Linked DNA regions of Homo sapiens. The gene in region 2 interacts genetically with the main gene of each other region. Each region holds a gene or a part of one and is shown on either strand. Other genes may lie near its edges. The genes, in order: TOP3A, CDC6 and TOP2A.

Region 1 (3,188 bases), about 22 Mb from region 2:
CCTGGCTCTGGGGAGTGGGGGAGCCGGATGTTGGTGACAAGGCTTATTTTTAATTCTGGATGCTCTAAGTATCCGGGGTGGGATCAGGCAGAGACTCCTCAACTGCTACAAGTTGTGTGGGGTGGTCTCGTTTCCTCTGCTGTTAAGTGCAAGCAATCACCTGGGGAAGCATGTGCAGGACGTCAGCCAGGCTTCTTTGCCAAGATGGCAGGGAAGCCTCCAGTTACCCCATGGGCTCTCAGCATTGGTGTGGAGAGCAGGGAGGGGCTTTTTACAAAACTCTGATGGGGCTTGGGGGGACATGGCATCAGAGATTAGGTTTCAAGGCCAGGTTAGCTGCTTGGTAGAGGAAAACACTTAACCCAACAGAGCTATGGTTCCTGCACAAAAAGGACAGGAGATGCTGTCTTGCTGGCAGCAGGAGGTTGAAACCACTGTAGGTGACAGCCTGGCCAGTGCCTAGTCTCAGCTAGATCCATCAAGGGGGGGGCGGGGGGGGTCCATTTTCTTTTCCTTGGTTTTGCATTGCACAAGCTGCAGATGTGGCTCAACACAGGGACTAAAAACCCTTCCAGTCAACGTTGACGGGGTAGGATGAGCTGCATGCTGCTAACCTGAGTGGGCCATCGAGAGAGACTTAGAAATTCCAACAGGTTTGATTTGTGAAGCTTTAATTTGCAGTCGTGCCTGACCGTAAGCCTTCACTAGAGAGCCTCAATATGAACAAGGACACCCCATTACGGATGAGGCAACTGGGGCTCCAAGGATGAGGCTGCACACCCAGGGTGGCAGAAGAGGCCAGGAAGTGGGAGCTGAGCCTGGGTCTGTCTGATCTCAGATGCCTGGCCCAGTCCATGGTGCAGCCCAATCCTGCAGTTTGCTTTTGAGACACACAGTTGCCTGCAGAGATGTGAAAACCACAAAGGCATCTGATATCCAGAAACTATTAAGAACTCCTACAACTCAACAACAAAGACAGACAACACAATTTAAAAATGGGGGAAGAGACCAGGTGTGATGGCTCCTGCCTGTTAATCCTAGCACTTTGGGAGGCCGAGGCTGGTAGATCACCTGAGGTCACGAGTTTGAGACCAGCCTGGCCAACATGGTGAAACCCCGTCTTTACTAAAAATACTAAACAAATTAGCTGGGTGTGGAGGCAGATGCCTGTAATTCCAGCTACTTGGGAGGCTGAGGCAGGAGAACTGCTTGAACCCAGGAGGCAGAGGTTGCAGTGAGCCAAGATCGCACCACTGCACTCCAGCCTGGGCACAAGAGCGAAACTCCATCTCAAAAAAAAATAAAAAATAAAAAATAAAAAATGGGTGAAGAACTTAAATCGACATTCTCCAAAGAATGTATACCAATGGCCAGTAAGCCTGTGGAAAGATGGTCAATGTCATTAATGACTAGGAAAATGCAAAACAAAACCACAATGACACGCCACTTCATACCCACTAGGATGACAAAACACTAGGATGGCTATAATACAAGAAAAGGAAAGGAACAAGTGTTCACAAGGATATGGAGAAGCAGTAACCCTGGTGTGCTGCTGGTGGGTGTAAAGTGGTGCATCCACTGTGGAAAATTTGTAGGTTCCTCAAAAAGTCAAAACATGGAGTTATGGTATAAAACTACAATTCCATTCCTCGGCATATGCCCAAAATAACTGAAAACAAGTCATCAGACACTCATACACCAATGTTCACAACAGTGCTATTCACAATAGCCAAAAAGTGGAAACAACCCAATGTCCATCAACTGACAAATGGATAATCGTGTGGTATATTCATACAGTGGGCTATCAGCTTATCATAAACATCGAGGACTGACATGCTACAATGTGGATGAGCCTGACAAACATCAGCCAAGTCAAAGAAACCAGACACAGGATGTCATGTATGGTAGGATTTCATTTTTTTTTTTTTCTTGAGACAGAGTTTCACTCTTTTTGCCCAGGCTGGAGTGCAATGGCCCGATCTCAGCTCACTGCAACCTCTGCTTCCTGAGTAGCTGGGATTACAGGTGCCTGACACCACGCCCGGCTAATTTTTGTATTTTTTTAGAGACGGGGTTTCATCATATTGGTCAGGCTGGTCTCGAACTCCTGACCTCAGGTGATCTGCCCACCTTGGCCTCCCAAAGTGCTAGGATTACAGGCGTGAGCCACTGTGCCCAGCCTGGTATGATTCCATTTAAACAAAATATCCAGAGTAGGTAAACCCACAGAGACAAAAAGTGGTTGGTGGTACCCCGGAGCTGGGATAGGCAAAATCACACACGCAGGGCCACAACCCACACCCACTCGGAGATGTTCCAGGAACAATCTCAGGAACCTGCATTTGTAAAAATCCTCCCCAATACCCCATCAGAACACAGAGCCACTGGTCTATGGGCCAGGAGCCCAAGACCTGAGAACAATCCTAGTTTCTTCAACAACTAGCAACATGACTGGGCAACTCACACCCACCTCTGCTCATCTTCTAAACTGTAAATCAGAGTCCATATGGCTTGTATTATTCACAAGGTTTTTGTGAAGGCAAACGGGGGAACATGGCCACCACTGGAAAAAGTGGAAGATGGAAAGTTAGTGATCTGAATCTGAACCTTTCATTAGACATCTCTGCTCTGAGGGACCATCTGTGGGGTGAGAAGAAATTGGGCTCAGTGCTTACCATGTGGAAAGGGAGGAAGGGCTCTCCACATGGGACACAAGGGACAGCCATGAAGGACAGAGGCTGACGAGACCTCCCAGGGTGAGCTCCTTCCAGCACTGGCTGGTACCTGTTGCTTCTGCAAATGTTCCCCAGACCCTCTGCACTCTCGCAGGTCAGAGTAAAAAAAGGTTGGATTCTTTCATTTTAAAAAAAGTTTGAGACAGGGTCTTACTCTGTCACCCAGGCTGGAGTGCAGTGGTGTGATCATGGCTTGCTGCAGCCTCAAACTCTTGGGTTCAAAGGATCCTCCCACTTCAGCCTCCTGAGCAGCTGAACTAAAGACGTGTACAACTGTGCTTGTTATATTTTTAAAAATAGAGACAAGGTCTAACTATGTTGCCCAGGCTGGTCTTGAACTCCTGATCTCAAGCAATCCTCCAGCCTTGGCCTCCCTAAGTGCTGGATTACAGGTGTGAGCCTCCACGCCCTGCCGGGGTTGGATTCTTTTTATTTTTTTAAATTTTTAAATTT
Region 2 (3,654 bases):
AGGTAAAAAGATCATACTGCTACAGTAAGCTGCATGGTATCACAAATGACAAAATTAATATTCCATTCCCTCAGCCTTGTTTTGGTTGTGGCAAATGTAAAATGGCCATGAACTACGTATCTTACAGTATTTGATATCCAGTGTTAGTCTTTATAAACAGAATAGTAAGATTTGATTGTTTCTTTTTCACTCCTACACTGGCTGGGAGTTTAAGTAAAATTGTTTCTGGCATTATAGTTCTGCATGAAATTCTTTCTTTTTTTCATCAATTTGCTAAAATAAAATAATTAAAAATGTTTCAGAAGTAGCCAAAAATAGTGCTTAGGCTAATAGTAGGCAATATATACCAATGTATAGACTTAGATACTGGTTTCTTCCTCCTTTTCAACTTTTCAGATTATCCCCTTTTCCTCCTCCTTTTTCCCCATCAGTAACATTTAGGCTTGTCACTGGCCCCTGTGAGCACCACTAACACAAACATAATTCAAAAAGGTAAAGAGGTTGTAAGTTCTATCTTTTGACTTCTGGTTTGTGCGGGATTGGCTTTTTTCTTTCTTTTTTTTTTTTCTTTTTGTGTAAAACAAGGTCTTGCTTTGTCTCCCAGGCTGGAGTCCAGTGGTGCAATTATGGCTGGTGCGATCATGGCTCACTGCAGCTGCAACCTCCCAGGCCCAAGCAGTCCTCTCACCTCAGCCTCCCCAGCTCCAGCTACTGCTAATTTTAAAATTTTTGTAGAGTCAGTGGGTGGAGGAGTCTCCTTATGTTGCCCAGGCTGGTCTCAAACTCCTGGGATAAAGTGATTCTCCTGCCTCAGCCTCCCACAGCTTTGGAATTACAGGCATGAGCCACCATACCAGGTTGAGATTGGCTTTCAAGGGCTCCAGAAAGCTATAGGGAGAATGACTTTAACTAAATATAAGAAGAAAATTTATAATAACTAGAACTAACTGGGCTTCCTTGAAACATAGTGGGTTCTCCAGCATTGAAGATATTCAGACAAAAGCTGGATAGATGCCACTTGTTGAGATTGTTCTAGAGAGGACTCGGCCAGTGGATAGGGAGTAAAAATAGACTTCTAAATTCCTTTCAATTTTAAGATTCTTTTACTTGATCTGTGATCTCCGGTTTCTCCATTAGTCCTCTGCAGCATCCCTTTGTGGTAATGTAATATTATAGAAGTAAATTGTTGTGGGGCAACTGCAAGTGATTTCAGGAAGTAACTTCAGGTAAAGGTTGTTACAGAACACATTTCTTTGTCTTGGAATTCATGCATCTCCAAACGATAAGGCCATAGTCTTTTTTTTTTTTTTTTTTTTTTTTTTTTGAGACAGGGTCTCGCTCTGTCACCAGGCTGGAGTGCAGTGGCGTGATCTTGGCTCAATGCAACCTCCTCCTCCCAGGCTCAAGCCATCCTCCCACCCCAGCCTCCTGAGTAGCTGGGACCACAGGCACACACCACCACACCCGGCTGTTTTTTTTGTATTTTTAGTAGCGATGGGGGAAACCCATCGCCTTGTTGCACAGGCTGGTCATGAATTCCTGAGCTCAAGCCATTAGTTATTTTTCCTGATCCTCTCCCTCCACCCTCCTATAGGCCCCAGTGTGTGTTGTCCCCACTATGTGTCTATGTGTTCTCATCATTTAGCTCCCACTTAGAAGTGAGAACATGTGGTATTTGGTTTTCTGTTCCTACAGTAGTTTGCTAAGGATATAGTCTTATGAAGCTTATTGGCAGTTTCCCAACCCCTGGCTTTTATTAAGATGATGATATCTGGCCAGGCATGGTGGCTTACGCCCATAATCCCAGTGCTTTGGGAGGCCGAGGAGGGCAGATTGCTTTGAGCTAAGGAGTTCAAGACCAGCCTGGGCAACATGATGAAACCCCATCTCTACAAAAAATACCAAAAAGAAAAAAAAAAAAAAAAAGATGGTGCTATCTGCTAGCATATCCAATGACATTTTCTCAAGTGTTGCTCTACTGCTAATCAGCTTGGGCAAGTGAACCAAACCTCAAAGGTCATTTGGGGAAGCCATCTGAAGGGCTGACATGGCAGCGACTTCACTCTCCACATTTAGCCACTCATTTGATCCAAAATATTCGGTAATTTTCCAACTTTTTTTTCCCTTTCTTTTTTTTTTATATGGAGTTTCACTCTTGTCGTCCAGGCTGGAGTGCAGTGGCACAATCTTGGCTCACTGCACCTCTGCCTCCCGGGTTCAAGTGATTCTTCTGCCTCAACCTCCCAAGTAGCTGGGATTACAGGCGCCTGCCACCACATCCAGCTAATTTTTTGTATTTTTAGTAGAGATGGAGTTTCGCCGTGTTGGGCAGGCTGGTCTCCAACTCCTGACCTCAGGTGATCTGCCCGCCTTGATCTCCCAAAGTGCTGGGATTACAGGCGTGAGCCACTGCACCTGGCCTTTTTTTTCCTTTCTTAATTACCAAGCACAGTCACCATCTTTGCTTCAAGGTTCTGTTATTCTATACCTCTGAGATACTAGGAACTAGCCTGGCATGGTGGCACGTACCTGTAATCCTAGCTACACAGGAGGCTGAGGCAGGAGGATCACTTGAACCCAGGAAGCCAAGGCTGCAGTGAGCCATGATAGTGCCACTGTACTCCAGCCTGAGTGACAGAGATCCTGTCCCAAAAAAAAATACAGTAGTTCTCTGGTCCTTTCATGAGGTGGGTTTTGTTCCTCTGACATTAAATTACATTCCATAGGACAAAACAGCTCACTATTTGGCCCAGAGAAAGGGTAACCCTACTTTTCAAGTCATCCCACATTATTTTGACATCCTTAAGAGAATAGCATTATCTCTCATCCTTTGGCCTCTGGTTAGAGATTTAAAACCTCTGCTTTGCCACCATGTGACTATACTTGAATTTCCTTTAGCTCAAACTTAGTATCATCTGTCTCATCATACATACACACACACAGTATTTTAGAAATCGAATTAAGCTTGGCTTATTTACTTTATAGGTAAATCACCTTCTGAGCCTCTGATTCCCAAGAGGGTTGGTCTTATTCACATATCCCAAGTCATCTCAGAAGTTGATGGTAACAGGATGACCTTGAGCCAAGAAGGAGCACAAGATTCCTTCCCTCTTCAGCAGAAGATCTTGGTTTGCTCTTTGATGCTCTTGATCAGGCAGTTGAAAATCAAAGAGGTCACTCTGGGGAAGGTAAGTTGGGATGGAGCAGATGGAACGGAGGTAGAGATCAGAATCTGCTTTGCAGAGCAGGTATTTTCCAAAAGGCCTATGATACTTCAGCTGATAATAAATTTAAAATGGATTTTAACAGTAAGAATTAATACTGGTACTATATAAAAGGCACCTATTTCCCTTGGATTGTGGTTGAGAGTTTATCATTAATCCTTTCCCTATCCTCCCCTTCATTTCTGCATCTCTCTAGGAAATATATAAAGCCCCTTTCCTACATTACTGTATAGGTTTTCGGGAATATCTACAGAAGCCTGTTCAAAGATTTTATTGAAAAGAGGAAGAAATAGGGTATTCAGATAAGTTTTTGCAAACCCAGACTCAGGTTTCTTAAATGATTAAAGGCTATAAGCAATGTGACTTTTAAGCAGCGTTTGTTCTCCCTTGTTTCCTACCAGTTATATGAAGCCTACAGTAAAGTCTGTCG
Region 3 (3,654 bases), 110 kb from region 2:
AGTATAAAGGAGGTTAAATTAGTTTTTAATGTTTGATTATTATAATTTTGAGGATACTGAGTTTTACAGTTTGGTATTTTTCCTTATTAGGGTGGCAGACATGTTGATTATGTAGCTGATCAGATTGTGACTAAACTTGTTGATGTTGTGAAGAAGAAGAACAAGGGTGGTGTTGCAGTAAAAGCACATCAGGTATGTGCTTTTGGCAGTTTTCTTTTTCTAAAGTCAAGGAAGAAGAGAAAGGCTATAAATAAAGCATGAGTACATTTTTAGTGGCTTAATATCAACTTCTATTGCAGGTGAAAAATCACATGTGGATTTTTGTAAATGCCTTAATTGAAAACCCAACCTTTGACTCTCAGACAAAAGAAAACATGACTTTACAACCCAAGAGCTTTGGATCAACATGCCAATTGAGTGAAAAATTTATCAAAGCTGTGAGTACTTAGAGGAAAATAAAAATAGAAACACCTGACTTTATTTTCCATTGCACTTCTTAGCTCTGCAGAAACAATGATTCTTCTCATAGTGAGCTTCTCCAAGTCTTCCCAATCTGAAAAGGAAGTAAAAAAGGGCTTTACTTTAACTGATTTACCAAAGACTTAATGACCGTCTATATTTCAGTATTTCCCAATTACATTTTACCATTAAGCTTAGATCACTTTTGAATTAATCTAGCTGTTTAACAAACACCCTCACTTAAATGCCTAAGACTTGCTTTCAGTCAACACATCCAAAATTGAATTTGTTACCTCCATACTCACTGATTTGCCCATACAAGCAGCCCCCCACTCTCCAACAAAAAAACAACTTCCTATCTTAGTAAAAAGCCCCAACCAACCTCTAGGTTGTATAAACAAGAAAGCTGGGAGCCTTCCTTTATTTCCCCTCCTCTCTAATCCGGTCAATAAGAATCATCTCTTGGATGCTGCAGTAGCTTCTCACCATTATCTCTTTTTTGGTTTACTACAATAGGTTCTTAACCTTCATACTGGTTAAGTCCTTTCCTTGGAATGCTTTTGAGTGACTTTTGTGTTAAAACACCCATTTTTATCTTCACTCTCATTTGAAATCTTTCAATGACTTCCACTCAGGGAAAGTCCAAATTCCATAATTTGGCCAACAAGAAAGATCTGCTGTAATCTAATTACACCTACTTCTCCAACTCATCTCAGTGCCAGTTTTTCGTATATTGTCCTGTTGCTTTTAAATTACTGAAAAGCACAGTGCTCTTCCCCTCCTCAGAGTTTATTCACATGCTAATCCCTCTGCATGAAATACATCCTTTTCACCTGGCTACTTTAGGTCTTGTCCTTTCCTCAGGAAAGCCTTTACTTTCTACCCTTCCCCCCACCTAAGTTGGTTCCAATATAATATTGAACATACCTTATTAGCAAACTTTTTGCTTATCCATAACACTTATAACACTGTAACTTATTTTATTTCTGTCTTTTTTTTTAGGCAGAGTCTCGCTCTGTCGCCCAGGCTGGAATGCAGTGGCACGATCTCGGCTCACTGCAACCTCCGCCTCCTAGGTTTCAGTGATTCTCTTGCCTCAGCCTCCCGAGTAGCTGAGATTACAGGCATGCATCACCATGCCTGGCTAATTTTTTTGTTGTTGTATTTTCAGTAGAGACAGGGTTTCACCATGTTGGTCAGGCTGGTCTCAAACTCCTGACCTCAAATGATCCACCCATCTCGGCCTTCCAAAGTGTTGGGATTACAGCCATGAGCCACTGTGCCCAGTCTTTTTTTTTTTTTTTTTTGAGACAGAGTCTTGCTGTGTTGCCCAGGCTACAGTGCAGTGACGTAATCCTGGCTCATTGCAATCTCTGCCTCCCAGGTTCAAGCGATTCTCCTTGCCTCCTGAGTAGCTGGGATTCTCCAGCCTCCTGAGTAGCGGGGATTACAGACATGCACCATCACATCCAGCTAATTTTTGTATTTTTAATAGAGATGGGGTTTTACCATGTTGGCCAGGCTGGTCTTGAACTCCTGGCCTCACTTGATCCACCATCCTCGGCCTCCTAAAGTGCTGTGATTACAGGCGTAAGCCACTGCACCCAGCTATGTCTGTCTTCTATGTTGTGTCTTAAACTTGATGAGGACAAGTGTCTCAATTTGTTTTATTTGTGTCTAATTTTATTTATTTATTTTTAATTTTTTTTTTTGGAGACAGCTTCTCACTGTTTCCCAGGCTGGAGTGCCGTGGCTTGATCTCAGTTCACTGCAACCCGCGCCTCCCAGGTTAAAGCAATTCTCCTGCCTCAGCCTCCCAAGCAGCTAGGATTACAGCCATTTCACCACCACCATGCCTGGCTACCCTTTTTTTTTTTTTTTTTTTTTTTTTTGAGACGGAGTTTCACTTTTGTCACCCAGGCTGGAGTGCAATGGTGCGATCTTGGCTCGCTGCAACCTCTACCTCCTGGGTTCAAGCGATTCTCCTGCCTCAGCCTCCCGAGTAGCTGGAATTACAGGTGCCCACCACCACGCCAGCTAATTTTTGTATTTTTAGTAGAGCCGGGGTTTCGCCATGTTGGCCAGGCCGGTCTCAAACTCCTGACCTCAGGTGTTCTGCCCACCTTGGCCTCCTAAAGTGCTGGGATTATAGGCGTGAGCCACCGTGCCTGGTCTAATTTGTTTTAACCACTATATCTCCAACAAGTAGCTCAGTGCTAGCACAATATAATTATATAGTAAATATTTATTGAACGAATGAACCAAAAGGAGCAGCTCCCTCAGTGGTGATAACCTGACATGGGAAGATGTGCCACCCTCTATCCAGAAATTATTGTTCTACATCTTTTTAATTTTTGAATCATTTTTATTTGTATTAAGGCTCATTTGTATTCTAGATTTCTGATAGATCCCTTCTTCCCTAATATGATCCCTAATATGAATCTTCTCGTTTTCAGGCCATTGGCTGTGGTATTGTAGAAAGCATACTAAACTGGGTGAAGTTTAAGGCCCAAGTCCAGTTAAACAAGAAGTGTTCAGCTGTAAAACATAATAGAATCAAGGGAATTCCCAAACTCGATGATGCCAATGATGCAGGTATATATTTAATAATGTTTCCAAACTTTTAAGTCTTATAGTTGTTATTTTATTCATTAATGGCATACCACGGATATTTATTTTTCCCTTGACAGAATAACTATATTCAACAGAATAACTTGTTAAAAATCGGCCCGTTTCCTATTATGGAAGATTTAGGTCATTTCCATGTTATAAATAATATTGAGGTGATTATTTTGGAGTATAAAACAAGAATGTTTATATTATGATCTATTACCTAACAAATAATTTTGCTCATTATATAGTAAATTGTGTTTTATCACAAGGCTATAAACAGCATGTTCAAGTTAGTATATTTGAGGTTGAACTAAATGTGCTAATATTAATATGTATATTTTTATTTTAGGGGGCCGAAACTCCACTGAGTGTACGCTTATCCTGACTGAGGGAGATTCAGCCAAAACTTTGGCTGTTTCAGGCCTTGGTGTGGTTGGGAGAGACAAATATGGGGTTTTCCCTCTTAGAGGAAAAATACTCAATGTTCGAGAAGCTTCTCATAAGCAGGTAGAATATAAGACGATCTTCAGAATCTAAATCTAATTTATAATACAAGACTTTATGCTTATATTTAATTCCCTC

Evidence for each region.
Region 1: changes in CDC6 (region 2) and TOP3A are lethal when combined (synthetic lethality), as found in Homo sapiens cells (one large-scale study listed by BioGRID).
Region 3: changes in CDC6 (region 2) and TOP2A are lethal when combined (synthetic lethality), as found in Homo sapiens cells (one large-scale study listed by BioGRID).

What each region holds. Positions count from the first base shown.
Region 1 is NC_000017.11:18,270,774-18,273,961, forward strand, and holds the end of TOP3A (DNA topoisomerase 3-alpha), read right to left. Parts: 3' UTR 655-3,188; downstream 1-654. UniProt on the Homo sapiens protein: Releases the supercoiling and torsional tension of DNA introduced during the DNA replication and transcription by transiently cleaving and rejoining one strand of the DNA duplex.
Region 2 is NC_000017.11:40,297,843-40,301,496, forward strand, and holds part of CDC6 (cell division control protein 6 homolog), read left to right. Parts: intron 1-2,985; coding exon 2,986-3,188; intron 3,189-3,625; coding exon 3,626-3,654. UniProt on the Homo sapiens protein: Involved in the initiation of DNA replication. Also participates in checkpoint controls that ensure DNA replication is completed before mitosis is initiated.
Region 3 is NC_000017.11:40,407,892-40,411,545, reverse strand, and holds part of TOP2A (DNA topoisomerase 2-alpha), read left to right. Parts: intron 1-90; coding exon 91-192; intron 193-299; coding exon 300-437; intron 438-2,915; coding exon 2,916-3,054; intron 3,055-3,421; coding exon 3,422-3,579; intron 3,580-3,654. UniProt on the Homo sapiens protein: Key decatenating enzyme that alters DNA topology by binding to two double-stranded DNA molecules, generating a double-stranded break in one of the strands, passing the intact strand through the broken strand, and religating the broken strand.